Linked DNA regions of Homo sapiens: all the other regions are linked to region 3. The links come from fine-mapping of genetic effects on gene expression. A gene starts in region 3. Each other region holds a variant in brackets. All regions are shown on one strand. Distances are from middle to middle.

What was found. PIP is the estimated chance that this variant, and not a neighbour inherited with it, causes the effect.
Region 1: its variant is fine-mapped to the expression of ZNF277 in nasal epithelium (TOPMed, PIP above 0.99).
Region 2: its variant is fine-mapped to the expression of ZNF277 in whole blood (TOPMed, PIP above 0.99).

Annotation. Positions count from the first base shown.
Region 1 is chr7:112,333,368-112,343,800 of GRCh38, reverse strand. ZNF277 (zinc finger protein 277) reads right to left here. Exons shown (of 12, transcript NM_021994.3): 8 at 7,630-7,697; 9 at 5,975-6,071; 10 at 3,916-3,958; 11 at 2,755-2,929; 12 at 1-1,240. The coding sequence ends at 1,072. ZNF277-AS1 (ZNF277 antisense RNA 1) reads left to right here. Exons shown (of 3, transcript NR_186626.1): 2 at 2,679-2,746. Among named protein-coding and RNA genes, the nearest start is that of ZNF277-AS1, 12 kb to the left of the region's middle. The variant C/T (reference allele first, on the strand shown) is at 4,996.
Region 2 is chr7:112,283,406-112,293,838 of GRCh38, reverse strand. It overlaps ZNF277 (zinc finger protein 277), which reads right to left. Exons shown (of 12, transcript NM_021994.3): 2 at 6,765-6,966. It also overlaps the pseudogene RN7SKP187. Among named protein-coding and RNA genes, the nearest start is that of ZNF277-AS1, 62 kb to the left of the region's middle. The variant ACTGGTCCTCTTCTAGTG/G (reference allele first, on the strand shown) is at 5,040.
Region 3 is chr7:112,200,982-112,211,414 of GRCh38, reverse strand. ZNF277 (zinc finger protein 277) reads right to left here and starts at 4,720. Exons shown (of 12, transcript NM_021994.3): 1 at 4,608-4,720. The coding sequence starts at 4,698. DOCK4 (dedicator of cytokinesis 4) reads left to right here and starts at 5,016. Exons shown (of 53, transcript NM_001363540.2): 1 at 5,016-5,313. The coding sequence starts at 5,277. RefSeq lists an enhancer at 4,505-4,624 and a silencer at 4,795-5,144.

The DNA of each region.
Region 1 (10,433 bases), 130 kb before region 3:
GTGCATTCCACCATGCCTGGCTAATCTGTGTATTTTTCGTAGAGATGGGGTTTTGCCACGTTGGCCAGGCTGATCTTGAACTCCTGACCTCATGTGATCCTCTGCCTTGGCCTCCCAAAGTGCTGGGATTACAGATATGAGCTACTGTGCCCAGCCTCAAACTTGGATTTGACTGTTTCTTCATTATATCCAAATTATGCATTTTTGGTATAAATCTACAAAAGTGATATTCTGTCCTCCTCAGTACATCTTATCAGGAGGCATATAATATTCATCAGTAATGAAACTGATAATATTGTAAACATACATTTTGAGACAAGTGGGAAAAACTGAAAACAGATGATATTAAGTTAATGTTAATGTTTTTTAGGTGTCATAATGGTATTGTGGTTATGTTTTTAAAAAATGGCATTTAAATGTTAGTGACATACAAATTGCAGGGAAAAGTGAAGTTAACTGGCTTGATGTCTATTTCTAGGGAATTTGGCCACCCTAGGCAGAAAGTGGTAATAACACAGTCAGCTCTTGATTGTTCTAATATAATGGCCAATTTGCATATTATCCACGTCTTTGACCATTTCTTCTTTCTTCTGTGGCTTTTCTTTTAGTCATTACATTTACAGCTCACCCAATATAGTACAGAAGGGATATTCAAATTTTGCAACTTGTTGGATGAAGAAGGTCCTTGGGGAGGAGACTGAAACTACTGATTGAAAAATCAGGTTTATAAATAATTTGAACATTTCATTTCTTTGTAATTGACATATACTTCTATATATAATTATGAGTTTAATGAAGTGAGATAATTTAAGATGATCACACAATAAAACTTTACAGCCAAAATACAAAGTCTTCATCTTATTTTCCTACTTCATTTTTTTTCATGTTCTTAGTAAGTGCATTTTTCTACTTTATTTTTTGAAAAGAACATTCATTTTTGAAAAGTTTATTTCACCAAGGACCAATCTTTTGTTGATGTTCAAATTTAAATTGTTCTTTCATATCTGTCTCATAGGAGAAAAACATGAAAAATTGCTTCTGTGGTAGTTTCTTCTAGGTTTTCAAGTACTCTTATAGTAGCAACTGGTTCAAAATACTGCTTTGTTTCAAAGCATACAGTTTAGATGTATCTTCACTGATGATGGGAACATTTTCATTTTGTTCCTGAGCTGTCAGGTCACTTTCACTGTCAGATAGTGTACACAGGAGAGTGTCATTTTCATAGGTTGGAAAATAATACCTGAAAACAACCACAGATACATAGTATTAAATTACCAAGCTAATACAGTGTCCAGGTAGCTGAATGTACACATTTACTATAATTTTGTCAGGTATCCTTGCCAACAATTTCATAGCATTTTGCAAAGGCTATACTGGAGACAACTTCTGATTGCTTTCACTTTGACTTTTACTGGCTGACATCAACCTTACCAAATCTACTATCCAGATTTGGTAAACCAAGATCGTGGACCTCCCACCCTCCAGAGTTGCCTCTGGAGTTGTCCGCTGGCCACTTAGCCTCTGCTTGATCATCTATCATGATAACAAAACACACTATCTTCGAAGGTAGCTGACCCCAGTAGTGGGTAGATCTAGTTGTTTGATACACCTCCTGTGAAGCTAAAAATGACATCTTTCTCATTTCTACTCAAAGGTCCTAGTTCTTCCTTATAAGTTAACAAACTTCAAATATAGTTAATTTTTCAAACACAAATTATTCAAATAATTGAGAATAATAAGCTCTTCCTTGTGTTTTGTTTTCCAGCCTAATAGTTCCTTCTTTCTAGGTAATCACAAAAGGAAACACTTACGGAATATAAAGTTTGTTATTCTGGTTCCTTCTCTGAATACATTTTGAAGTTACTTTTGGAATATTACAAATTTTAATTTATATAAGAAGGATCATAAAAACAGGGTACCCTCACAAGTGTGGGATTTTCTGAAGGAGAAAAACTAGAACTTTCTGGTTAAAGTTCTGGGGGAACTGACTTAACATTCCCTAAGAACAGAAGGAGCTCTGGGCAGCTAGAACCCCACAGTCTCTCAGAGGAGCCCTCGACTGAGGTTATCCAGAACGATGTGAGAACCAGTCCAGAAGGTTCTTGGCAAAGGATACTTGGGAACCAGTCCACAAAGTTCTGGCAAAGGATACATGGGAATCCAACAACAGATGACCAACTGCTTAATTTTTTCAAGTGCCAATATACAAAATATATACAAAAAGTCCTAGCAGTGTGCAAACTCTGACATAGTAATTTTATTTCTAGGAGTTCAGCTTAATTAAATAATTAGATAAGTGTGCTAAAATGTAGGCATATAGATTCACTGTATCATTATAATAGCAAAAAGTAAGAAACAACCTAAGTATCTCGCAGAATAGATTATATCCATACAATGGATATTTAGCAACCATTAGAAAGGATGCAACAGATGGATACTGGCTATTGAAAGATATTTACAATATTTTGTTAATAAAATATAATTTAAAAAATCTGTATCTACTTCATCTCTCTACATATGTATCTATCTCCATATCACAAATACTGAAAAATACTTGGTTTCATTTGTAAGAGGGGGATTATTTTAAAAATAAGCATTTTGAATATTTTTACATTTTTCCCCACACTGTACTGATGTATACTTTTTATAATAAATATGTATTCCTTTTTTTTCTGTAGGCTTAAAGAAATTAAATAAAGGGACAAAATCAAAGAGTTGGAGTAAGAAGTGCACATTTGGTTTTGCAGTACGTACTCCAGTTGATCCCACGTCTTTCTATCGGGGAGCAGCGAAGTGTGTTTAGTTTCTTCCATGTGAGTTCTTAAGTCTGCTTTGGATTTGAACTTCACATGGCAGCCATAACATCTGCATTGGTGAACTTGCCTCCGAATAAAATTGACCAGTTTCACTTGCTGATAGAAATTTAATCCTGAAAATGACAAAATACAGAATCATTAGACAACTGTTCAGACCCATTTTTTGCACTATTATAATTTCTTAAAGGAGCCACTTATTTTTATTAATCAACCTGAAGAGGCAGTACAATTATAAAGCATAATAATAGATACCAAATAATAACAGCACATATTTACACAGGGCTTATGAGCTAGGCACTATTCTAATAATTTTCCATGTATTAATACATTTAATCTTCATAAAACCCTATCAGATAGGTAGTATCATACCTACATTACATATTAGGAAACTGCCTAGCATCGCATAGATAGCTGTCAGCTGCAAAGCCCATGCTTGACTACTAAGCTAATTATATAAACAATGTATATATATGTCTATAAAAGCAGCAAAGTAACACATCCAAGGACCTAGGAAAGCAGTGACTGAGCTGAGCTGTGAGAAGTAAGTTTTTTACTGTCTTAGATCTATTAGCAAGTCAGTACTTTACGTATGTCTTAATGCCCCAAATCGTTCTATTGTTGTGATACTTAGAATGATACATTGGGTACACCTATAACAAACAATCCTAGCTATACTGCTAAGCAGTGCAGTAGCCATTTACCATACATTATTCACTCCTCATAACATTTTTCTGACCTGAGGCCCAATGTCATAGCCAGTAAGTGCCAGAGCTGGAATCTGAACTCTAGTTTGACTTAAAAATCCATATTCCACTAGCCCCCTCCAATTTATGATATATTATTAACCACTAACTTATATTTCACTTGAAGCACTCATATATGTAGGAAAGAGAAAGAAGGAGTATATGAAACCAAAAACCATATTTGACTATTATGGTTGAGCATCACTGCTTCACAGAGAGTTCTGTCAAGACCATCTATAGAGAGACATGTTTTGGTGGTGCACTCTCCAATCATAGCTACTGAACATAGGCATAGCTTACAGGATGGTTTATAAAAAATGAAGCATCACAGAAAAAAACCTCTGAATCAAACTTACCAAGTTCTGACTTTATTTTGAGAAGATCAAATTCGTGTGCATCCTAAAAAAGGAATGAATACATCTGTAAGCATATGAATTATTTAATCTTTCAGGCTGAAGTTATAAACAACTTATTCACAGGAGTTTGAGTAGTTTAGAAACTCAGTCTGAGTTCGGTATCTTCTGCTTTTGAAGTCTTCCAAGTCTAACTACTTCCCTCCATACCCAACTTTTTTACAGCATAGTCCAAACAAGTCATGTCAATCAGTTAAACCATTATAATTGGGCCGGGCGCGGTGGCTCACGCCTATAATCCCAGCACTTTGGGAGACCGAGGTGGGCGGATCACCCGAGGTCAGGAGTTTGAGACCAGCCTGGCCAACATGGCAAAACCCCGTCTCTACTAAAAATACAAAAATTGGCTGGGTGTGGTGGTGGGTGCCTGTAATCCCAGCTACTCAGAAGGCTGAGGCACGAGAATCGCTTGAACCTAGCAGGCAGAGGTTGCAGTGAGCTGAGATCGTGACACTGCACTCCAGCCTGGGTGACACAGCGAGACTCCATATCAAAGAACAGCAACAACATTATAATTGCTCATAGCTTATATCTATAGTTTTTATAATTTACAATGTTATCCATTTTGTAGCCTTCTAAAAATGTAGAAGTCTATGTATGCATTCTGCAGTGTGATAAAAGTGTAGGTAAGATATGTTTCTATTGTACTGTGCATTTGGACTAGAATTATGGATATAGGTTCTTTGCCCCACATAGGTAATTTTTACAAATTCTGCTTTTCATTTTATGCTGTCAAATACACTGTTTAAACCTCAAAGCTTCTCTTCACTCACACCTTCCTATAAATCACGCTTTCTTTTGATTTTTACAATGCACTTATTTTTTGCGTGTTTGTTTGACACCTGCAATTGTCTGTGTAAATGTTTTAACCTACAATCTCACAGATGATAAAGACCATTTAACTCACTGGGATGGCATTTAGTGTAGCACCATATGAAGGATGATTAGGAATTCGTGATGTTATCACTGAAAGTGACCCAGCAGAGGTTAAGGACACCTGTCAAGGATGCCGAAAAGGTAATC[C/T]TTACACAGGATAGGCATACTAAGGCTGCCTTCAATACAAAGACATTAAGATATTATGAATTAAATCTAAACACAGGAAATTATACACACATACTAGTGGGAACCTTTTTCAGAGAAACTAAAATCAAGGAAAATGTTTATGGTCTTTTGAGCGCTTTCTAGGCCCTTATTTTACTAAACTAAGAACAGTATTTCTGAATAAGGGTGAGGTGAAAGTGGGTGAAAGTAGAGAATATGGTCCACTATTGGCAGAGGTGGCTGCAGGGAGGGGACGGAGAGATATCAGAATCATCCAGTAATATTTTTCTATTATAATCACCCCTCTGCCCACAAGCTGTGATACTATCATGAATCATTACATGTTCCCCTTCCCTATCCGCCTTGTGCAGCTAAGGATCAGAGGTGCAGGGTGTGTGTCCTCTCTCAGGTATACTGGGGTGAAAAAGGTTTAGAACTGCTAGCTCCAAGCTTCACTATAACATAAAAATGGCATCCAGAAGGGAAAGCCCACACTAGGAATGCTCCCTAGTTTCTTCTCTCTAAATCCTGGCACCTGAAGGAACTGTAGGATCATGCCCTAGCTCCTCTCTACCCACCCTCCTTTTTCCCTATTCCTCCGGGACCTTTGTAAATGGCAATGTTCTCCCTTCTTGCTCTCCTATTCACCAGCACAAGAAGCACTGGAAAAAAGACTCAGAACCTGTCCCACCTGCTGAGCTAGAATGATCTTGTAAGCATCTCAAAGGTGAGATGGCATCAGTGGTCTGAGAAATCTCACACTAACAAACAGCTCACTCGGGTCCAGTCAACTGTACTAACTAAATTGCCCTGAGCTCTGGTTCTCCCTGACAGACCTGGCCTGTCTCTTCTGGTTGGAATAATGATTGGGAAACTGAAGTAAAAGCAGATGAGGGTGCAACAATTACTAGCTTTCCCCTGTCAGAATAAAACAAAATTCAAATAAATACAGGTATCTTACCTCCATGTGGACATACAACTTCTCAATTGTTTCTGCTTGCTTTTCACAAAATAAGCAGACTGCAGAGGCAGGGTGTTCTTCCCAATCAGACCAGTCACTGAATTAAAAAAGAGGAGAGAAAATACGGAGATTCCCTTCATTAAGAGAGTATACTACACAGTGACTTGGTATTGCTTTCTCCTTACTAAAAAACCCTGCCAATCTCTTTCAACTCTGACATTTTGGTAAAGACTGTCACATCATATTATGACTCTCTGATATAGCTTTTGAAATTCAAAGCAGCACCATGAAATTAATATACATAGTGAACAGGTGCTGTTCCATTTTCTCCTATTTGCCGTTCTTCTGAGTAGCTATCTCAGTCTACAGTCAGAGGAATGTCGTCCTGAGACAATGAGGTTTAATTTGCAAAGGAGACATATCAGAAAATGTGATGCTCTCTCCCATTAACCACAACCACTGAGTGCACACGCTGTGAGGTGTGATGCCGGGAATGTGTTTCTGCATGACAAATAGTGTATTTTACAAAGGCAAACCGTGTCTCTTTCACGAGGGAAATACTGATTATTTTAAACTGGGCAAGTGTTAAATCTGGCGGTAGACAGGGAACTCAAAAAGGATACAGGATCCCTTTTACCACTTTCCCCGCTCCTTGGCATTTCCCTTTTTGAAATACTACCAACTTCTTATCATTCCCAAACCAGGAAAACTGCCAGGAGGGAAGAGTTGTGGAGACAAGGAACACCCATTCAAATTCAGATGAGAGAATTTTTCATGGCAAGCTCAGAAATGATCACTGATAAGACTCTCAAGATCAACCTAACCCAATTCACACAGAAGCTTCCCTATTAGAAAACAGGAAACATTTTCCTTAACTCTATCCATCCAGGAGGGAGCCACCAGTCCCGGCCCAGGTCATGACTTACTATTTATAACCTTTTGTGTCATTAAAACTTTAACATTCACTGATTAAATATTCCAACTAGTATGTCTTAATGGGAAAGATGTTTTTATTTCAGTCTGGAAGACTCTCTGCCTGAATCTCTATGCATCAAGAAAATTCAGCAAATGGCAGCTCTCTACCTTTGGGCTTTACCTCACTATTAAAATAATAATAATTTAAAATCCTGAGAGAGAAAAAAGGCCAAAAAGCTTTGACTGAAAAGAAGATGAAAAATAAGAAATCCTTTTAGGTTGAAAAGAACATTTCTCAAGCTTATAATTTCAAGCAAAGAAGCTGTGAATGTTTAAAGTTAGTCATCAATGGCCCGAACACAGAACAGGATTAACTTCAATGCAGTTATATTCTCTATTCCAATGACAGCAACATGGAGAGTTCAAAGATCACATCACTTCAAGGTCTGAGCACTAACTGAGCAGGCAAAGCACTTCGGAATGTATTTTTCTCTGAATTATATATTACTTGTGTGTTCAATCAATAGCTTTAATTTAGTTGGAATAACAGTGTCTTTAGGAATTTTTATGTCAAAGTTATTTTGAATTCAAGTTTTTGCCACATTACATGAAGGGATGCATGGCTCAGAGAAGGTATTTTTTTCTTCTTATGTTCCCGCTTCATAATTTAAACCAAACTAAAGCATTGTCTTCTTACTCTTGGAACACTGCAATTAATTAGCAGCAATAACAACTCTTACTCTTCCTGATGGTCCAGCAACTCCCGATCATCTTCCAACTGAACTTCTTCCCACGATTTTCCAAGTTCCTTTGTAGGAAGAACAGAGGGATGAGAGACATTGGGGGAAAGAGAAGGGAGAGAGTATGTAGAACTTTGAAAAAAATCAAAACCAAAAAAATAAACAAAACCACCCATGTTTAAATGGTTTTGAAACAGTACAAGTAGGATATACAGATGGCCCAACTTATGATGGTTTGATTCAACACTTTTTTTTGACTTAATGACAGTGCAAAAGCAATATGAAGTTGAAACCTTAATGAGATAATTTTTTAGAGAAGCAGCAATATCCTTTCAGTCAAGTTCTTTTCTCTTAAATTTGAACCAGTGTTTCTAAACCCTGAATGAGTATTAGAATATCTGGGATTCTAATGGCCTTTGTTCATTGTTACATTTCCAGAGCCTGGCATACAGTGGGTACTATTACTATAAACTATTTTTTGAGTTGAATTAGAAAGTAGAATTCAATTTGTTAGAAATAAAAAATAAAAAAATACACTTGAGGTCAATTTAGATTCTACCTCAAAAGGTTTTTTTAAGGTGATTAAATGAATGAGTTACTGTCTATAAAGAAATAGTACTAGGCATGAGTAGGTGCTCTAGTACCTACTCAAATCCCTTTTATCCTTTGCCATCAGTGGAAAAGTTCCACTCTTTTGGCGCTATGTCTGGCAAGCCTAGTCACAGCGTTAGCAAAACTTTATGGAGTGATGAGTAGGAATGATTTATTTTGGCCCAATTCTTTTGTTCCCCTTGGGCCGTTTCTTCCTCTCTTCTTGCCCTGTCTTCTTTCTATCCAATCTTCCCATTGTGCCATGCAAAAGCAGACAATGTCACAAAGAGAGAGGTAGGAACATTAATGGATATGTTTTCAAGCAGCTAAACTATGGTTAGGATCAGGCCCACCTGACCTGCTACAAGCATGGATAGCTTTGTTGTTCAATATCCTTTTGGAAAAACAAAACCAAAATTCACTCAATTATGGACTCTTTTTCCCCCAAATAAAGGTATTCATCTAGCTAAAAACAAAGAACTATGAGTGCCATTATGATTTAGAGGGAGAAAGAAAATCCATTATTCATCAACTTAATGAGAGGTTTTGAAGCTGTCATTATCAGCTAAATGATGCATACATTTAGATATACAGAGATCTATCATAATGTCATTAGAGATGGTTAATTTGGACTCTATAATGTACTTCCCAGAGTCATCATGAAGTGTCTGAATCTCATTACAGAACACCAAAAATGGCCTCAACACTGCCAACAAGATGCTTGTTAGAAAGTTTGGTAATGAATTAAATCTTTCATGCCTTACTTGGTTTTTCTGTACTTGGACTTAAGGTCATGGTTTTATTGCTGCAAGGTATTACTAAAGTATGGGCCTTCTGTGATTTGATCATTCTGAATGATAAGGGCAAATGTTGCTTGTCAATGAATATTTTGAGCCAAAAGTACAAAAAATATCTTTCACTGTTAAACTTCTAAACTCAAAGCATTATTTTGCAACTTCCTCAGTGTTGAGTACAATATGTAGAGAGTTATCTAGGCCACACAGCATTAACCACTTACCCCACTTGAGAGGAAAATGAATGTACATGTTTATCAGTATATTAGGAAATAAGCAATTTGCACGTGAAAGTGGCCCAGTTTCCTAGAGTGCTCTGATTTGGTACAGTTAAAGATATGATTTATTATAGAAACAAGACCCAAAGCAAAAAAAAAAAAAAAAGCACATAACTCTCTAATTAAGACACTGTGCCTGCTAATGAATCATGTCAGGAAAGCAAAGAATGTAAGAAAAACAAAGTTTGGAAGGCATATCACTAAAGATGTTCAGACACCCCCTCAAACCCCTGCATCAGATGGCTCATGAATAATGAGAGGGTGGAAAAAAACATGGAAAAAAAAGATCCCCTTCACCCATCACACTTCTGCCCTAATACATACACACTTACATGTGCTTACACAAAACTCCACCAGAAACAGAAAGAGAAGTGTTTTAAGTGTAAATAACTTCACTAGAGAAAACTATAAAAAACTATGAAAAATCAGTTAAAAGCTTACTTTTGTTATAAGTGGCTTTGTATACTTTAAGAATAAAAAAATTTAAATCAAAGAATGATAAAAATCATAGCAAAACCAATTCCCTTTAGAAAAACTCAGGGTTTGAAACATGAGCATCGTAGGAATATGTAGCTGAAGCCTCGATGTTAAACAGTCTGTTGCCCTCTGAGGAAGGGTTATCTGAATGTGAAACTAACTGGCACCTTATCCCCAACCCATCCTCACTACCTGTTGAACTCTTTTGTTTGTGAGAAAACAAAGCAAGAATTTGATGTAGATAATTCAGACTATGCAAAAGACTTTTAATGTTTTTGCAAGTCTGTTACTATTCAGAAACTGATATGAATGATTCAGCACAGAAATTATCTCACCTAAGAAGGAAAATGGAACTTGTCAATTTGCTGAGCTCAGAAAGCCAAATGCAGCCTCTCTGTCCATTTGCTCTCCTACTTCTGCTGCCTATTAGAGTGTATCTTGCTACGGATACCCTGGATGTTCCCATCATTGTTGCGCTGGCAGAGTCTATGGCGTTTGAAGTGGAGGTGAGGAGCTCTGTGTGTGAATGACTCAATGACTGCATATATCTGCTATAGGAGAGGTCGAACGCTGACTTTCCATATACCATTACAAAGGGTTCAAACTAACGTGCTTACATGGTGGTTTTCCATACTGACTTCTGAACTCTTTGAAAGTAGTGACT
Region 2 (10,433 bases), 82 kb before region 3:
AGGACTATCTGGATGGTATCCTCTAGACAAAACGGAGACTAGTGGTCAGCCCTATATAATTAGTTCCATTTTGGGTCTAGAGCCTGTTGAAAGGCAGTGATAACTCCTTGAATACACAGACTACTTTACTTTGGAAAATGTTCACAGTCTTAGAAAAGTATCTGTGTGAAACCATGTGGAACAGATGACCAGGCAAGAGCTTGGATCCTCGTGAACAGACTGCTCTTTGAATTATTAATGACTTTTTTTTTTTTTTTTTGAGATAAGATCTGGCTCTATTGCCCAGGCTGGAGTGCAGTGGAGTGATCTCAGCTCTCTGCAACCTCTGCCTCCTGGGCTGAAGACATCCTCCCCACCTCAGCCTCCCGAGTAGCTGGGACTATAGGCACGCACCACCATGCCCAACTAATTTTCCTATTTTTTTTGTAGAGATGGGGTTTTGCCATGTTGCCCAGGCTAGTCTTGAACTTGTGAGCTCAAGCAATCTGCCCGTCTTGGACTCCCAAAGTGCTGGGATTACAGGTGAGAGCCACTGTGCCTGGCCAATGACTTTTTTTTAAATGGACAATCAATATTGTCCCTTGCTTATCTGCACAGATCTTATGCTAGAAGCAGTTTTGCTTTTTAAATTAAGACAGTGGTCAAAGTATCATAGTTAATGTATTAATTACCACCCCGGAGGCAATGGTGAATAGAGAAGCAAGGACTTTGAATTCAAAGGTATGAACCTGAACTTAAAGTTATTTAATCTTTCTGAAACTCAGTTTATTCATGTGCAAAATAAATTGTTGATAATTAAATAGAATAATGCATGTAAAGCACGCTGTCCAAAATTCTGGGTGTTTAATATATATGACAGTTATTACTATAAGAAAAAGTAACATATTTAAATAAGACTAAGGTAGTGAATAATTTATATTTATCCCAGGGAAATAATGAGACACACAACAAAAACAACAACAACATTTCAGCAAACATTTGATGAAAAAGACAAAATAGTTATATTAATAGCGTCAGAGGGCACATATAGGTGGCTAAAGTGGTAGAAGAGAAGAATGATGATAGTGACAATAATGACAATTATTAGCAGCTACCATTTAATGAGTCCTTACTTGCCCAAGGTCAATTAAAATGTTAGAATTGAGATGTGAACTTTGTCTCTCTGGCTCCAAGGCCAAACTCAATCTTCTACAACACAGTTCCTCTAGTGTCATGTGGGGACGAATCGGTACAAGAAATGCAGAAAAGGGAAGGCAGGGACAGGAAAGAGCCCCTATAATTAAAGTTGTAATAGAGAGTTGAAGCATTTTTTTCCCCTCAGAGACCAATGAGGTCACATAGAATGCTTTTTGACAAGGCAGAACCAGAAGTACAGAAATGAAGTCTGAAGAGGAAGAGAATGTTTTCCCCTTCCGAAAGGCATACTACTTAACAGTAGCCCTCAGTCTGAACTGCTCCTAAGTTGCTACCTAAGGGCTGAAAATTGACACCAACTGTTTGGGGCTGTTTTGGAACTGCTTAACTAGGCAAGGAAAGGGTGCAGAGAAGTTCCACTACAGAGGTAACAGGAGCCTGATTCCAATAGTCAGTGGGTCTCAGTTTCCAAAAACTTCTATGTTTGAGTACTGTCTCTTTGATGTCTGAAGAGAAGAATCACATGACATGCTTACTTTCCATCAGAGTTTACTTCAAGGTGATATGCACATGGGAAGAAATTACTGACATCAATTAACTTAGAATCATGGGGAGATTCTGCCTGGCAGAACCTCGGTTGCCCTCCTCAAATAGGAAGTGTTTCCCATGGGATAAAGCAGGTAATAGGTTGGTCCAAGAGGAACAAAGTTGTCATTTGAGTGTTCTCTTCCTAACCAAAACTTGGGTGACAACAACATCAAAGAAAAAAAAATCATCTGTTACAAAGCAAAATATAACCATAAACCATCATACAACTTAAACATATAAAATTAGGCATCATATCTTACTGTGGTATACTATAGACAACAACAACAACATACATTTGACCTATGTCTAAATTTGAGTAAAGAAACATCCTAGTTATTAAACACATAATAGTGGTTTTTAAGCTTATAATTAAGAGGTGTCAATATATACATTTCCTTTCGGATGGTATGGGCATTCAGATAAATTGTAATCAACTGAGTGATAGAATAAAGATAGCAGATCTTCAGTACATGCTTCTTGTGGCATTTTTTCCCACTCACTAGAACACTGTTCAAATTTAAGAGCTCATTTAGTACTTCTCTTCTGTATTTTTCCTACTTCTCTAGTTTACTGAAAGCTACAATTGCAGCTACTCAATATATAAAGGCCACTAAGAAATAACATGTGGTAGGAACTCTATTTGGATGAGTTATCAAAGTATTTCATACTTCATTAAAAATCTATAAAAGTAATTACTAGGTCATCAGCAAATACTTTTTTTCTTCCAAAGGAACTTCAAATCATGTCTCACAGAATTGTCTCACAAAAAATCCTTGTTGCAATATCTTGCCTGCCCACCCTCACTGTAATTGGTATGGTTATTGACATAGTCATAAAGGTTTGAAATATGGTTGTTAATTAAGTAGCAGTGAATGTGTGGAATTTAATATAGAAAAGGGTAAGAAATAAGAAGTTAACATTTATTTTCCAGAGCAATTTTATCTACTGAATAAAGCTAGCAAATAGCTCAGTATAAATAACTATGTTAAATGGACTCAATGGAAAGATTTTTATTTTTGTTTTTATTTCTCCTGCCCCAGGAAGTTTTAGTGTTATTTTGTTTCATAAAAAATTATATATTTAGTATGAAAACTTATAGCTTACTTCTTGTAAACCACAAGGTAAGTCCATCTCTTATTTATTATCATCTTCATTATCTATTGTACTCAGAAGCAACAATTCCTCTTGAGTTCTGAGTGAATGTGTTCATGCCAAATAAATCTCTCATGTTCCCTCCTCCCAACCCTACACCTTATACCTTGTCTTCTAAAATTAGAAACAAGTTACATGATGTTGAAAAGATTCCAACTTAACTTTGATCATAACAATCAATACCTGGATTGTTTGGGAGAGGAATTTTTAGTTTCCTTAAGTAGTAGGAGGTTATTATCTAAAGAAGACTGGATACAGTCAAAGGTATTTAAAAGCAACAGAGTTTACTCAGATACATGCCTGATCAATCAGAATTAATCACATTTATACTTGCTGAGAGTGAAAATTTTACTTAATTAGAAGGACAGTTGACAAGGAAAATCTAGGTTTCCATATTTCAAATACATGTTAAAGATACACTTTAGAAAGCACTTATATCAGATATGCATCCTTTTCTTTTTAATTAAAGCATCCATTTTATTGTATATCTGCATTTAGAGCATGAATAATCCCAGCATTTAATTACTGACTCCTAAGTCCCGAGACCTAGTAAATAATTCAATTTTTCTGCCCACGTATGCATATTAGGATAATGAGATTAATAACAATGATACAAATAGAGAGATTGATTAGTACAAATATAGCTACTTAACTATGACACATAAGCACAAAGGAGAATACAAACTCTGATTCAGACATTCCTCACATACTTTACGGGCAGAGGAGAAAGAAAAATCTTAAACTATTCAATTATCACTGGTAGTTAATACTGTTCTTCTGCAATTCCTGAAGGAAAATTTGTGTTTATATGATAAAAGGGAATAAAAGAACAGTTTCATGGCTAGGCACGGTGGCTCACACCTGTAATCCCAACACTTCAGGAGGCCGAGGTGGGTGGATTGCTTGAGCCCAGGAGTTCTAGACCAGCCTGGGCAACATGGTGAAACCATAAAAATTTAAAAACATAAAAAATTAGGTGCAGCGCACCAGCATGGCACATGTATACGTGTGTAACTAACCTGCACAATGTGCACATGTACCCTAAAACTTAAAGTATAAGAAAAAAAAAAAATTAGCCAGGCGTAGTGGTGCATGCCTGTAGTCCCAGCTACTTGGGGAGGCTGAGGTGGAAGGATTGCTTGAGCCAGGGAGGTGGAGGTTGTACTGAGCCAAGGTCGTGCCACTGCACTCCAGCCAGGACTCAAAAAGAAAAATAAAGGTTTCATATTAAAGAAAAGCTGACTAATAGAAGCCTTAGGAAAGAATAACCTATGTAGTATTTCTTTCAATGGTTGAGTATGAATTAGAAGATCTCTAGCCTAAGAAGTGTCTGAAACAAAATCAACAGATCTCACCACATATAACTGGGTTGCATATAAGAAAGCTCCCAGAATACTCTGAGAATAAAGACATACACACACATATATTTTAATGAGAATAAAGAATAACAAATGATAATGAGGAGCAGAGAGTATGTCCTATGAGAGCATGTAGGGAATTAGTTTATTTTAGCAGTTGGCAATATATATCATTCAATTAACTGTCCTCCTATCTCTGAGACCTGATAAGGCAGCACCAAAATCTCTTGAAAAATAGTAGTGCTGAGTCGATATAAGGCAACATACACAGAAGGCACATGGTAAATATTCAGTATTGGTGCTAGGCAATAAGGACAGAGATGAAGGCTAGAGAATAGTTATCATTACCCCTGTGGGTATGCTGGCTATTCCAACTTAAACTATCTTTCCAAAAATTTAGATTATTTAGAAACTTGAATGAAATTTTCTCAAAAGCTATATTTTACAAATGATAATTAGGTTTTTAGATTAGCATAAATACAAATGGAAAACTCAAACGATAGCTGCAGAAAACTAAGATTTCAAATATACCTTCGGTGATAAAAATACAAATAAAATTTTGCATTTTATCTACCATTTATCAGGTACACATGTCTCAGGCACTAGCAGATGCTACACATACTCTTCTTTTTTTTTTTTTTTTTTTTTTTTTTTTAAGAAAGGCAGACTGCCACATGCAGCACTTCATTTGGATGTGTCTGGAATCTTGGAAGCTTGACTACCCTATGTTCTCCTACAAATGGACTTGAGAGCTTGTCTGGAGGTTCCAGCAGGGAAGCGCAGCTACTCGTATACCCTTGACCAAAG[ACTGGTCCTCTTCTAGTG/G]GAGATGGTTGTCCTCTTTGACTGAGAACACAGCTTTGGGAGGCATGAACATGGAGTGGTGAGGGAGGAAGGGGACAGCCACTTAGCCAGCCAGATCAGCCGAATCAACCCTGGCGATTAATGGGGTGACAGATGTCACAGCCAGATCGCCCTCACATTCCATACTTTGTTTTATGTAATATTCAATAACCATGAGGGCTGGTGTTACCCCCATTTTATAGATGAGAAAATCAATGCTTAGAGTAGTTAGGTAGCTTGGCAGGAAATCACAAGATTAGGAAGTGTGAAAGCCTGCACTCAACCCCAGGCTTTCCTACTTTCATAGTCAGCTCTTAATAATACAGCTTGCTCTTTTGCAAGACCTATCATAAGAAAGAAGCTGTTTGCTAGGAATGTTTTATATGGCCTGGGAGAAACAGAGTTTAGATGCAGGGGTATTCAATGTCTGGGCTACTACAATGTTTTATGGGGAAATCAGGACAGAATACCTCAAAATGGGACCTTACCAGATACACCAAATTTTATGCTTTCAGTAACTATACAGGGAAGGTATTTCTCTTGGACAACTACTTCCAGAAATTATAAATTGGGAAAAAAGGAATCAACCTCATCACAACATTTAAACTGAGATTTGTTTGGGCAATATCCTTTTGGCTTGAAAGTCTCCAAGGATCCCATTCCCAAACACTGCCTTTTGAGTGTCCTGTTGCCAAGTCTATTCTGGAATTACTGGAAGGACCCACTCAGAGAATGTCTATGGCCTAAAACATGAGACATAATCTGGGAGACATCAATAAGATCTACAATGTCATGGAATGCTGCAAAGTGAGTATTATCTACTCTTTGGAAAGTTCATCTCTTTAGAGAACTTATAGAAAATAAATTAGTATGTGACATTCTCAAACTTACAGACTCAAGAAAAATAATGTAAAGATTTTTTTAAAGTCTGAGAAGTTGGCTGGGTGCAGTGGCTCATGCCTGTAATCCCAGCACTGTGGGAGGCTGAGGTGGGCAGATCACCTGAGCTCAGGAGTTCGAGACAGGCCTGGCCAACATGGTGAAACCCCATCTCTACTAAGAATACAAAAATTAGCTGGGCGTGGTGGCAGGTGCCTGTAATCCCAGCTACTCAGGAGGCTGAGGCAGGAGAATCGCTTGAACATGGGAGGCAGAAGTTGCAACAAGCTGAGATCGTGCCACTGCACTCCAGCCTGGGTGACAATAGCAAAACTCCATCTCAAAAAAAAAAAAAAAGTCTCAGAAGTACAAAAGAGTTGTAAAGTTTTTTTTTTTAAGTCTAAGGAGAAACCTGAAAATGAATATGAATTTTCATATTTGTATGGGAATTATTTTATATATAGATTATGTCACTCCTTTAACAAACAATACATTTAATTCTCTTTCTTAAGAGACAGGGTCTCATTCTGTCACCCAGGCTGGAGTGCAATGGTATAACCATAACTCACTGCAGCCTCGAACTCATGGGTGCAAGCAGCCCTCCTGCCTCAACCTCCCAAGTAGCTGGAACTACAGGTGCATGCCATTGATCCTAGATAATTTTTAAATTTTGTTTTTAGAGCTGGCATCTTGAACTACTACTGGCCTCGGGTGATCCTCCCACTTTGGCCTCCCAAAGTACTAGGATTACAGACATGAGCCACCACACATGGTCAAATTTAATTCTTTTAAGGACAAAAACAGAACTTACCTTTGGAAATCAGCAACCAACTTGACATCAGCTATGACAATCTTATGCTCAATAATCATGTGCTTCAGAAGTTTGTCTTGTTCAGCCACAGGAAAATGTTCTTCACAGAAAATACAAGGCACAGATGGAGAACCTTCTAAAGTGGTGGTGCCACCTGGACTTTCTGGCAGGGAAAGCGGCTCCAGGATACAATCCTTACTGTCTGGAATAGACCAAAAAAAAAAAAAAAAAAAGAAAGAAAGAAAAGCTGAAACCAACTCTTCATATGGATGATTTCCCACCTCCTGCATTAAAAAGATCCTAAAGATATTTACATGTCTCCAAAAAGAAAAATACATAGTGCTGGAGAGTAGGATACTTTATTATCATTTTAAACAGTGTTTGTAGCCCAGAGGCAGGGAGTATTGCAAAGCAGCTCAAACCCCTCATTTGCTTGCTTGAATGGGGGAAACCCATTTGTCAGGGCAGCTGTTCAAGCCTTCTTCTTGGACACTGGCCAATGGCAGCAATTCCCGGGGTACTTGCAAGGGGGAAGGCTGCAACACTCTGGGTTAAGGTTCTAAGGCTCAATTGTGACCTATGGCTAAGAATCATCACACCAAGGGAATAAATGGTATACATTAAGGCGACAGATGATGCCAGGCCTGTCTGTTAAGTTGCTTCCTGTCGCATCTGCAAACTCTTTCCTGTTTCTGATTATTTGTCACAAACAAGAACAAAGCTCTCACGCTGGGTAGACACAGTATGTGCTGGGTGGCCCTCATGGCAATTTTCTATGTTGACTTATGTTTATCATTTGCCTATTACACAAGTATGCATTACAATTCAGGCTTCTGTGAACAAATAGATGACTGCTCGATCACTAGACATATGTGATGTGGTAAACATTTTTCCTGGCTATATTATTCCTCTTCCTAACATCTTCTACAGCATCTTTAAGAGCTGAAGTATGTGTAAAGTCTATGTCTCTCATTTCAGAGCCTAAAACCACAGCCAGTCGTGACAGTAGCCCCCTTTAGTCTGCCAGAGTGGACGTCTACACCTGTCACCTTATACAGGCTATTTAGTAGTTAGTAATCAGGAAACTGGGGTAAAGAAACTAGGGTAAGGCCTCTGGCATTTGCAGAAAGTCAGGCAACCTTCAGAAAGAAGAGAACCTTCTTCAGAAAGAAAGACACAAAAACTAAGCCACAGACAAGTTTTCAGAATTAGGTTAATATTAGTTCTCCCGTTAAAGTTTCCTATTTTTTTCCCTTACTTTATCTTCTTTTTAAAGGTTTTCTTAATTTATGAATTAATTGAATCAGTCACTGGTACACTGGTGACCATGGCTTGAGAATTATGTAAGTGCGGTGGCTCACATCTGTAATCCCAGAGCTTTGGGAGGCCGAGGTGGGCGGATCATGAGGTTAGGAGTTTGAGACCAGCCTGGCCAACATGGTAAAACCCCGTCTCTACTAAAAATACAAAAAATTAGCCAAGTGTGGTAGTGTGTGCCTGTCATCCCAACTACTCGGGAGGCTGAGGCAGGAGACTTGCTTGAACCTGGGAAGTGAAGGTTGCAGTAAGCTGAGATGGCGCCACTGCACTCTAGCCTGGGTGACAGGGCTAGACATCATTCCAAAAAAAAAAAAAAAAAATTTCCTATTTTTTTTTTCTTACTTTATCTTCTTTTTAAAGGCATTCTTAATTTATGAATTAATTGAATCAGTCACTGGTACACTGGTGACCATGGCTTAAGAATTATGTAAGTGTGGTGGCTCAAGCCTGTAATCCCAGCACTTTGGGAGGCAGAGGCGGGCAGATCACAAGGTCAAGAGATCAAGACCATCCTGGCCAGCATGGTGAAACCGTGTCTCTACTAAAAAAATACAAAAATAAGCTGGGCGTGGTGGTGCACACCTGTAGTCCTAGCTACTTGGGAGGCTGAGGTAGGAGAATTGCTTGAACCCAGGTGGTGGAGGTTTCAGTGAGCAGAGATCATGCCACTGCACTCCAGCCTGGTGACAGAGCGTGACTCTGTCTCAAAAAGAAAAAAAAGAAATTATATAAGCAATGTAAGAGGGCAGCATTCATTCATTCACTTAACAAAAATCAACTGACTATCTACAGGGATGTTCGATGTTGCATGATGTTCAGTGCTACCAAGGTTAAAGTGCTCACAGTCTGTTTGAAGGTACAAGTAAGTTAAAAATATAAAGAAATGGAGAATGTACAGGGTTTACAGCAGCAGCGGTTGGGGGAGTCACTTAACTGAGCTGGAGAAGGAAGGTGTCCCATAGAAGAGGGTCTCTAATACATCACCCAAACATACTCTAGTCACATTAAAGTATGCTAAATCAAACTGTTTATTTTTGTTCACAAAATTAATATCAGAGAAGGTGAAAACACATAGGATATACATGACAGTACGGAGAATATTTAAAATACATAAGCCCTTTAGAAGCACTATTAACAAAACTGGTGTTATCAATTACTATATTTATTAAATTAGGTAATGAAATCAAGGAGTTCTGGAATTCTACAGTTCTTCAGTTGTAGGTTATATTTTTTAGTAGTAGGTTAACTTTCATAGGCATTTAAACTCAAATGTGAAAAACAGAATGGAGGAAGAGAGATAAGTAATATACTTATGAAACTCTATGATAGTATTTTACATCCACTAGTATATAGCTACAAAAGGCAGCATATTCTAAATAAAGGTAACATTAGTAATTATTACCTGCCATGTAGGAAATAACAAGTACTATATTACATCCTTTCCACAGATTTAATTGAGATATACAGAAATTTATTGGTTTGACTGCTGAAAACAAGCCTATGGTATTAATAATAATCAACAGCACAACTAACATTTATCAGCTACTTGCTATTTGCAAATTACCTGCAAGGTGTGTTAGGACATTTTCCTAATTAATTCTAACTATCTTATTCAGTAGTACTACCATAATCCAATCTTCCAGATGAGAGAATCAAGATTTAGAAAACTTAACTAAGTTCCCAAAGTCACAATGTTAGTCAGTAGCCTAAACATTCTGAGTTGAGCCTAAACTCAAACACTATGCTGTTCTGCTCCCTGTACCAAATGGCATTTCTCCAACTGTTTCTTCTTTAGTATGTATATTTGGTGCTGTGAAGTTATATATATACATTTATAAGCTACTTTGTCTTTATATGTACTCTGACAATGTCCTCCAGTCTCCCTAATACCCCATAGCAATTCTTATGCAAATATCAGTAGCCCACATTGTCCAAAAATCACTAGAGTACAGTTCATCTCCATAATTTTCTTTATTTTTTCCCAAGGTTTTATTGCAGTCTATTATTCCTCTGTGGTTCACTTGTTTTTCCCTTTTGTATGTCTAATGCTCAGTTTCTCTTTTTTCAAATTGTTCCTAAGAGAATGGACCTAAATATTCACACATATGAGAACCAAACTGCCTGTGGTTACTGCAAAGGTCTAGAAACAAAATCATGAATATGCAAATTTCATGCAAGAGAAACTTGTGGTTTGCGAGGTATTAAGTTGTATTTGGGGGCTTGAGTTAGTATGTAACAGAGTCTCACTCTGTTGCCCAGGCTAGAGTGCAGGGGCACAATCTCAGCTCACTGCAACCTCCGCCTCCCAGGTTCAAGCGAGTCTCCTGTGTCAGCCTTCCGAGTAGCTGG
Region 3 (10,433 bases):
AGTAATGGTGAGGGTTAGTAATGGAATTAGCACAGTGGCTGTAGCTATGAATAGAGGGAACAGGTTCAAAATATACTACAGGCGCAGAAAAATAAGGCTTGCTAACTGATCAAATTCAGTACCTGAGGGCGAGTTAGGAATCAAGGATGCTTCCTAGGTTTCTAGCTTAGACTTGATGCCATTTATTGAAATAGGAAATACAAGAATGAGGAGTTTACATCACCTGCTACCCTTCCCTCTTTCTTCCAGAGACATCACACATGAGATAGTAAGTTCTCTGGAAGATAAACATTACCAAAATCATCAGATAATAAGGTCCAGAATCCAAGCATTAGCAAAATCATCAACTACTAAACACCCATTCGGAGGGAAAAAAGTTGACTTTGACAGAATATTACAATATGGAGATACAGATTAATACTCAGAAGAAATAGCCTCAGTCACAAAAGCCTCCTAAATGTATTATTACTGAATTGTGCTACCTTGCTGATTTTTAAAAACAGCAAAAGAACAAATGCCAATGACACCACGTGAGGGATGCTGAATCTATTTATTATCTGTTCTTAATTTTAGGAGACAAATTGAAATTCTGGTTACTGTTCAGATGTATGTAAAGCAGTGTCCTTTAACCCTTGACCTAGTGTGCCAGGTGCAGTAGCTCACGCCTGTAATCCCAGCACTTTGGGAGGCCGAGGAGGGTGGATCACCTGTGGTCAGGAGTTTGAGACCAGCCTGGCCTAGATGGCGAAACTCTGTCTCTACTAAAAATATAAAAATTAGCTGGGCATGGTGGCACACGCCTGTAATCCCAGCTACTCGGGAGGCTGTGGCAGGAGAATCACTTGAACCCGGGAGGCGGAGGTTGCAGTGAGCTGAGATCGTGCCACTCCACTCCAGCTTGGGTTACAGAGCAGGACTCTGTCTCAAAAAAAAAAACAAAAAAAAAAAACAAAAAACAAAAACAAAAAAAGCAAAAAAATCCTTGACCTCAATGTGGGGACTTTCTTGGAGAAGGATGGAGCCACAGAAGTCTGGCAACACAGTGGTCTCAGTGAGTGTTGCACCTGCCTGCACCCCACCCACTGACTCACTCTAGCAGAGATTTTGAGGAATTGCAAGGATTTCTATAAAAAGTCTTCCTAGGCCTCACTGTCCCAGGGTATTAAACACACAGACTAACATTTTAATCAGAGCAAGAAGAAAATCTCTTAAAAGAAGCAGTTTTCAAGAAGTCAAAAAGGTGTATGTTTTTTAAAAATTTTATTTTTATTATACTTTAAGTTCCAGGGTACATGTGCACAACTTGGAGGTTTGTTGCATATGTATACATGTGCCATATTGGTTTGCTGCACCCATTAACTCGTCATTTACATTAGGTATTTCTCCTAATGCTATCCCTTCCCCATCCCCCAACCCCACGACAGGCCCGGGTATGTGATGTTCCCTGCCCTGTGTCCAAGTGTTCTCATTGTTCAATTTCCACCTATAAGTGAGAACATGTGGTGTTTGGTTTTCTGTCCTTGCGATAGTTTGCTCACAATGATGGTTTTCAGCTTCATCCATGTCCCTACAAAGGACATGAACTCATCCAAAAAGGTGTATGATTTTTACAGGGAAAGACATACTTGATAACCTAAATGACTGCCTAACAAAAAATATACTTTTAATATAAATATTTACACCTAAAATTTATATCACACCTTGTTGGCTTTGAAAAGATTTTGGAAAAAGTAACAGAATGATACATAGGTTATTAAGCAGAATTTTTAATGACAACTTTATCTTATAAAAATGACATAAAAAATCAACCATTAATTTCTCCTGTTGACTGCTACAAGTCAATGAGAATACTGGGTATTTCTCACCGAGGGTGAGAAATTTTTTTATGTTATAGATACCGCAAATTCACTACTACTCAACACTTTTATTGAAAACAAACTGGAATCAAAAACTAAGCTTTCTATCAGTTACTTAATTCAATCTACTAGTCATTGAAACATTGGTCCTGGATTATTTCCTCAAAGTTTGTGACAATATGGGGGAAAGAACACTCATATACTACAGGTGGCAATGTATGCTGAATATATTTTAAGAGGAAAGTCTGGCATCTGTCAAAATTTTAAACTTGCATAACCTTTGATCCAGCAATTTTCTCCCAAAATATACAACCAGTGGGCAAGAATATATGTACATAAAGTTGTTCATTGCAACATTACTGAAAAACTAAAGTCACACTATATGTTCATTTATAAGGGAATGGATAAAGAATGGCACAATCATATTTTGGAATATGATGGGCACAGTCCTTAAAAAAAAAGGAAACAAATGTACTGACGTGGAAGGGTTTCTATGATAGACTGCTGAAAGAAAAAAGAAGGTTGCAGATCTTTCAGTTTATATAGATTTATCCCTTTTTATTATAAAAATCAAATCATAGGCCGGGCGCGGTGGCTTACGCCTGTAATCCCAGCACTTTGGGAGGCCGAGACGGGCGGATCACGAGGTCAGCAGATCGAGACCTCCTGGCTAACACGGTGAAACCCCGTCTCTACTAAAAATACAAAAAACTAGCCGGGCTTGTTGGCTGGCGCCTGTAGTCCCAGTTACTCGGGAGGCTGAGGCAGGAGAATGGCGTGAACCTGGGAGGCGGAGCTTGCAGTGAGCCGAGATCGCGCCACTGCACTCCAGCCTGGTTGACAAAGCGAGACTCCGTCTCAAAAAAAAAAAAAAAAAAAAAAAATCAAATCATACAGACGTGTGTCATATAAGAATATGGTGGTTTAACAGAATACGGATTGTAGGATTAAAAAAAAAAAAAGAAGAAGAAGAATATGTTGGAAAGAATATGTACCAAACTCTTATCACTTAATACTCGGGGAGTGGTGCTGTGAGGTGAGGGAATTTTCATTTTTTTTACTTCATACACTTCTGAATGGTTTGAAGTGCTTTTAAAAACTTTTAAACTTGTAAAATTTAAAAATAAATATTTTTAAATATTTTACATTTTTGAAAGGCATATCCTTTTTTTTTGTTTTGTTTTTGATACAGAGTCTTGCTCTGCCTCCCAGGCTGGAGTGCAGTGGTGGATCATGGCTCACCACAACCTCCGCCTCCCGGGCTCAAGGGATTCTCCTGCCTCGGCCTCCCGAGTAGCTGGGACTACAGGCATCCGCCACCACGCCCGGCTAATTTTTGTATTTTTAGTAGAGACGGGGTTTCACCATATTGGCCAGGCTGGTCTCGAACTCCTGACCTTGTGATCCACTCGCCTCGGCCTCCCAAAGTGCTGGTATTACAGGGGTGAGCCACCGTGCCCGGCCATTTTTTAAAATAAGTTAGACTGTGAGATAAATTCACCAGTTTAGATCTTAAACTGGTAGCCCTCTGGAACTTTGAAAATCTAGGAAACCGTAATAGTCTGTTACCATCAGATAGCCCAATATATAACCAACCCAAAAATAAACCATTAGGGTGTTAAATTCAATATTTAACTCAGGAGACTACCAAAGATTTGTTTGGTAGAGGTACTAAAATAATTTCAGAGTAGGGAGTTCCACTGTTGGGAAGTGGGAAAAAACTGCACTTCAACTCTGTGCCGCTGAGGTAAATACTTAAGATGATATCAATTTAACTGTGAAAGCAAAAACAAATAAATCGAAAAACAAAGTCGCAACAGTCTGAGAACTATATTTAAGCCCCAAACCATGTTCATCAGAAAAAGACAACTTGTGCTAAATTACACATCAAGACAAAAATGGGGTGGGGGGAATGGGGGAGGGATAGACTAAAGGTAAAAGAGTCCTAAACACAATCCACCTGCAGCTTTCAAAATTTGGTTTTTTATTCCTACAGTGGATCAGAGGACAACCTGAAAGTCAGGTACAGCCAAAGTTGTGATGGTTTTCAAAACTCTTTTCAAATGTTCTTTGAAGCCACGAGTGCAAATTATCTATCACTTTCCTTTTCTTTCTCTAAGGACCCAGAGACTGGGAAGATCTCTCAGGCTCCACATACAAATCTGAAGAACACCCAGAGCAGTTAACCATCTACAGGGAGGTTGTGAGATACACACACTTTCCCTTCAGAGGTCACCTCAGCCACAAACTGGGCAAATCTGTAGAGTGGAGAGCAGTGACCACCAGTCTGCGACTGGAAATACTCCGGAAGCTAAATAAAACACACCTGCGAGGTCAAACCAAGCAAACCAAGGCAGTGTACTGGTGAGGAGAAAGAGCTGCTAATCCCAAAATTATAAACACACGCGCGCGAACCAGATCTGAACCAAACCCACTCAGCAGCTAGCTCAAAGCTGGGAGCTCCAAACCAGAAGACAAACGCTCAGGGAGCTTCCCCGGCGGAGGGGAAGGCCATTCCATGGCATTTTCTCCGCCATCCCATGGCATTTTCTCCGCCATCCCCGGGCAGCCCCAACCAAGTAGCCGCCACCGGCTCCAACCCATCCCGCTGGGCCACCACCCGTGGGGCCCAGTCGAACCCAGGTGGCCCCAGAGCTGAAGGGCTCCTAGGGTCAGACCAGAGGTCCGTTGCACACCCGGTCATAGAGAAAGGAAGACACATCAGCCGCGCCTCCGGGGCACCGTACTCACCCCCATAACCTACACCCCCGACTGTGCTGCAGCTCCCATCACGGTCTTCCTGCATTCGGGCGACAGCCCCCTGGGTCTTGGAAGCAGCCATTACCCGGCAGAAAAGAAAAGGGAGGGCCGCAGGGCGGGTCGGAGGCGGGGTGGCACCAGTAGAAACGCTACTGGAGGCGAACTCCCCGTCGACGTAATGTTTTCTCCACACCTACGCCGCGCTCTGGACCAATAGGACGCAATCAGTAAAACTGAATCCCCGCCCCGAACCACATTTGCCGCGCCCACTTCCGGGATGGGGAGGCCAAGAACTACAATTCCCAGCGTGCTGCGGGGCCCTGGGACGGGAGGGCTGGACTAGGCGCTGGCGGGCGGGGGTGCGCCGGAGAGTGCCCCGGCGTGTTCGCTTAGTTCAGTGAATCAGAACAATGACTGCGCCGCCGGGTACCCGGGAGCGCGTCGGAGGACTGTGAGCAGCCGCCGCCGGGAGAGCTGCGGGCGGCGCAGTGTCAACGCTGGGCTCGGGAGCCTCCAGCGCAGATCCTGCCCAGCGCCCGCAGCCCGCGCGAAGCCGCTGGGCTCCGGCACTGCAGCGCTGCTCGGGGACTGTGCATTGTTGTGAGCCGGAGAAGGGGCGCGGGGATTACAAAGCCTGAAGACCCCGGAGCCCCTTTAGCCATGTGGATACCTACGGAGCACGAGAAATACGGCGTGGGTGAGTCTCCGCGGGGCGAACTTTTATTCTGCTCTGGCCCGAGCGAGTGCGCATTTCTCGTCCTTGCCCCCGCGCCCCTCTCGCTCCGCCCGGTTGAAAATGCCTAATCCTGGCATCGCGCAGCTGGTACGGGGCTTTGCCGAGCCAGCTCCAGGCAGAGGGCTGCGCACCAGGCTCTCGCCCCGCACCGCCTGCTCGGCGCGCCCCGCACTGGTTCCCGAAGCGCCGGGACAGCTTGGGGGAGCGCGCGGCCGGCCCGCTAGCTTCGGGCTCTGCCTGCGGAGTTTGGAGTGGCGACTGGGCGTGTGTGTGTGTGTGTGTGTGTGTGTCAAGTTGGAAGAGGAGGCGAATGGGGTTTCTCTCCTTCCTTACCCTTCTTCCCCAAAGCGACAGGGAGCTGCAACGGTTCCTCTGGGTGGAGAGGGAGACAACAACACTCGGGCAGAGAGAACACCCCCAAAACAGTAGGGAGGCGCAAACCCTTCCCTCTGGCTCGGATCGACATTCCCGGAGTGTGGAATGTGGCAGGGTCCTGGAGAGAGCCGCTCTGACAAGCTGAGCCCTCTCTGACCCTCCTCCCTCTCTGCGATCCCGGATTTATGGGGTGTGTATGTTGCGGGGCGGGGGCATTGGTAAATTTCAACATCTGCGCCGCTCGGTTCTTTGGTCTTTGGAGAAGAACGGGTATTTCAGCAGTGTTTTTACTTCTGGCCACCCTCTCGACCCCGGGTGAGCGCAGTGGGGGCGGTGTGGCGGTACAGGGCTGCTGAGTGATAAATGGGGAGGGGGATCGGAAAGCCTGGTTCTTGGGGGCAGGGAGATAGCTTTTAGGAAAGCATACCCTGACACTGGCGTTCGGAGAAAAAGGAACAGGATAGCTCTCGCTGTTCTGTGTAAAGGTGAACAACAAAGGACATTAATGTTGACTGATGAATACAGGAGTCTCCCTTCCTTTTCCTCCTCCCATTTCAGGCGGGTTACAGTTCCCGTTTTTGTTGTTTGATTTCAGCTGGGTCGCCCCTTGACAGTTACTCCTTTTAGGGTTGAGACTATTAAGAAGCCAGGCTCTCCGACAAGGCTGCAGCCGGCCAAATGCAATTATAACCTCCCAGAAGGTCTAACAGAAAGCATTATGGATTTTACTAACACTCTTTATTTCCTATAATGCCCTGTTCTGCCGACTGGTGTACTTTGTGTGTGTGTGTGTGTGTGTGTGTGTTTTAAAATTGAGGACAGGTCTAGTGATTTAGGTGATGTGTAGATATCTGCTTATGTTCTAAATTCATTTTCCTGCAATTTAAAACATCTGGAAAGCCTTCCCAGGGAGTCGTAGTCCGAGGGGATTTTTGTTTTTTTTTTTCCCAACTTTGCCTGGGGATAGGACTTTGGGGTCCATTGAAAGGACTGTAGGATTCAACAAAATCATTCCCACATTTCACGTTAGCTTCCATTCTGGATTGTGACTAATTACCAAGACAATAGTTTGACCTGAACCCACCTTTGGGAAAGGTTTCCAGCTTTCCCTCCTTCAAAGTGTCAGAGGAGTCTTTGCCAGCCTCTTTACTGGCAAGGAGTAGATGTTAGTAGTTGTTATTTTCGTTCTCCTCACTCTTCTCTTTTTTGGGAGGTAGATTAACCCTTGCTAGGGAAAAAGATAGTCCCTTTGCTGGACTGGTGAGGGACCCGAGGGCATCGCCTCCTAAGCGGCTTTAACACTCAGTGCAGGAAGCTCAGATCCATCCAGGCAAAACTGTCCTGCTTGGAGTCGATCCCAGATGTTGCTTTCTTCCAAGTGTTAAATTATACAGATTATGGATGGGATTTATTTTCTTGATTTCTTCATGTGCCAGGTCACAGCTGGGGTGCTGGTATCGATTAGTTCCTCTCTTGCCTTTCTTTACAAGCGGTGGGCAGAGGCTTAAAAACCACTCTGGGATTTCCTGGAATGGCAAACCGGATATTATCAGTCAAATGTTTTGGGCTGCAGCAGACACCTCGGTTTTGGGTGGTTGTGATTTGATTGCAGAGTAGGGGAGGCAGAAGGGTGTGCTCACAATTGAGAAAAAGAGGTTGAATGAGATGAAGGACGAGAGCAGAGAGAGGGTCTTTTGCCCCAAATTACTGCTGTTGTTCTCAATATCACATGTGCCAGAATGTTAATTAACCTTTATTATTAATTTTTGAGCATTTGGATTGTGGAATGCTTAGCTGTTTTTTAGAATCCATCTGTTAGGCGTGTGTGTGTGTGTGTGTGTGTGTGTGTGTGTGTGTGTGTAGTGAAATTTTTGCTAGGATACTTATGTGTGGACTTTATTTTTCACCATGGAGGGCACTGTTTATAGCTGCTTATATTGCAAGTTGTTTGTTTTTTCTTTTAACCTTGGTTAATGTTTGTGTTTTTCTCATGTAGTTCTTACAGATGTTAAAGAAAAGATCTTATGGGCACAGATCTTTGTTACCAAGTGTAGTGGTAATTTAGTTTCTTCATTCTTTGAAATAAATCAGTCTTTGTAACAGAATATGTGACGTTTTAGTATAAATTATATATTTCTGCAAAGGTACTTTTTATATACCCTCATTTATGTATGAGATAATTATGCTTTTATATACTTATGATTAAATTTTAAGCAGCATACTGTAAACATGGGTAAAATTAGTTAAATTTTATATCTGTAATTAAATGTATCGGAGATGGAAATTCTTTTTCGTAACTGATGTATAGGCACCGTCCCATTTAATGAATGATTAAATTCATTAAAACAACGAAAAGTCAGTCATAAGTGTTCTGATTTTAGGAAAAGGTATAGTGATGAAGTTATAGTTCTGAGGAACAGGGAACCTTGTCTTTTAGAAATCATGTTAAGAGGCACAGTGATAGGCAATTTCACCTTAGGAGATTCTAGTTAGCTCTTGATTCTGGGCTAGACACTGCTGCCAGCTGTGTAACCTTAGGTAAATCACTTAGCCTTTCTGGGTCCCAGCGTCTGGGGCAAGTGTTAACTAAAGCCTTCCCTGGTACTAATTTTGTAGAGCTCTTCCAACTAACTGTGTTCTTTGGTTAGAAAAACATCTTCATTGTGTTGAGACTGCTATGACAGAGACACTTTTGTTGTGACATATCTCACTTGGTTTTTAAGTAAGATCAGAGGTAAGCAAACGCTACCTGGCAAGCTGCCAGAACTGAGGTGCTGGTTCCTCTCTTTCTCAATTTGTTTGATTCTCTCTGGCTAGTAGGAGCTCCATGGGCAGTGACTGAAGCATTTTGTTTGTTTTTTAAATGTATTTTCCTTGACAAATAATAATAATATATTTTTTAAGTTTTCATTTTTTTTTTTTTAATTTAGAGACAGGGTTTTGCTCTGTTGCCCAGGCTGGAGTGCAGTGGCTATTCATAGGCGCCATCATAGTGCACTATAGCCTGTAGCCTCAAGCTCCTGGTTGATCGCCTCAAGCAATACTCCCACCTCAGCCTCCTGAGTAACTGGGATTACTGACATGCACCTTCTCACCCAGCTGTATATATTTATGGTGTACAGTGTGATATTTTGATGTACGTTTACAGTTGGAGTGATTAATCAGGCTATTAACAAATTACACCTCATATAATTACCATTTTTGTGGTGTAAAAAACATTTAAAATCCATTCTAGCACTTTTGAAGTATACAATGCATTGTTATTTATTGTATCTCCATTCTGTGGATATCACCTCCCATCTGTTAGAATGGCTGTATAAAAACAATGAAAGGTAACAAGTATTGGTGAGAGTGCAGAGAAAAGGGAACGCTGTGCACATGTTAGTGGGAATGTAAATTAATACAGCTGTTATGTAAAACAGCATGGAGGACCTTCAATGAACTAAAAATAGAATTACCATATGATCCAACAATTCCACTGCTTGGTATATATTCACAGGAATTGAAATCAGTATGCTGAAGAAATATCTGCTATCCCATGTTCATTGAAGCAGTTCTCAAAATGTCTGAGATATGAAAGCAACCTAAGTGTCCATCATCAGATGAATGGGTAAAGAGAATGTAGTATCTATACACAATGGAATATTATATAGTCTTGAAAAAGGGGAAAATCCTGTCATTTTCAGTAATGTGGAGGGTATTATAGTAAATGAAGTAAGTGTAAGTCTGGCACAGAAAGATAAGTACTGCATGATCTTGCTTACATGTGCAATCTAAAGAAGTTTACTTCATAAATATAGAGATTAAAGTGATGGTTGCCAGAGTCTGGGGGAAGAGGGTGGTTGGGGAAAGTGGAGATGATGATCAAAGTGTACAAAGTTTTGGTGAGACAGGGGGAACATGCTTTAGTGATCTATCGCACAGAATGGTGACTAAAGCATTCTTGATCGCATACTCACCAATTTCCTCAGATTACCTCTACCTCCTGCATGTCCTCATCTGTTAGCACACCCCCCCATTCCTCCCCCCTCCCCACCCCGCCTTAAAGTGGTGGGAATTATTCATGGAGAAAGCTAAGACCTTTGCAGATTGTTTTTGCGTTCATTTGTCCAACAGGCTTTTATGCACAGATTCACAGATGAGTCATGGCATCTTCCTGAGCTGAAGGCTGCACCCCTCAAACCTAGCCAGATGTTTTACATGTGTGAGCTTAGTTAAGCTTGACAGGAGAACACGGGCTGGATTGATCGGTGCAGAAAATCCATGAACCTTATAAGAAACAAAACTCAGAACAAGCTGATCTGAAGTCACAGTGTCATTTAAAAAATAAATTGTGTGGTGCGAGTATCACTCAGTCATCACATAAATTCCTGTATTCTATTTTTCTTGAAGGAGTTTTTGAACTCATCTGGGTAGGAATCATGTTCCTTTTTAAAGCCCCTTCTATGTTGGTGGAAGAAGATGCACCTTCTCGTATTCATACAGGATAGTTAGGTGTCTTTCTCCTTAGAAAGATGCTTTAATCATAGCGTATGTGTGTGATAGAGCGTAATAAGGATGTGTTTCCTTTACTCTTAGTTTTTTGTAGTTTCTTAGCTAACAGTTTCTTAAAGTGTTTTCTATTAGTGGTCCTATGATGTATCTACATAGCATGTAAAGCTAAATAATAATGTTCTGCTTGGAATTGTTTGTGACATTTAGAGCCT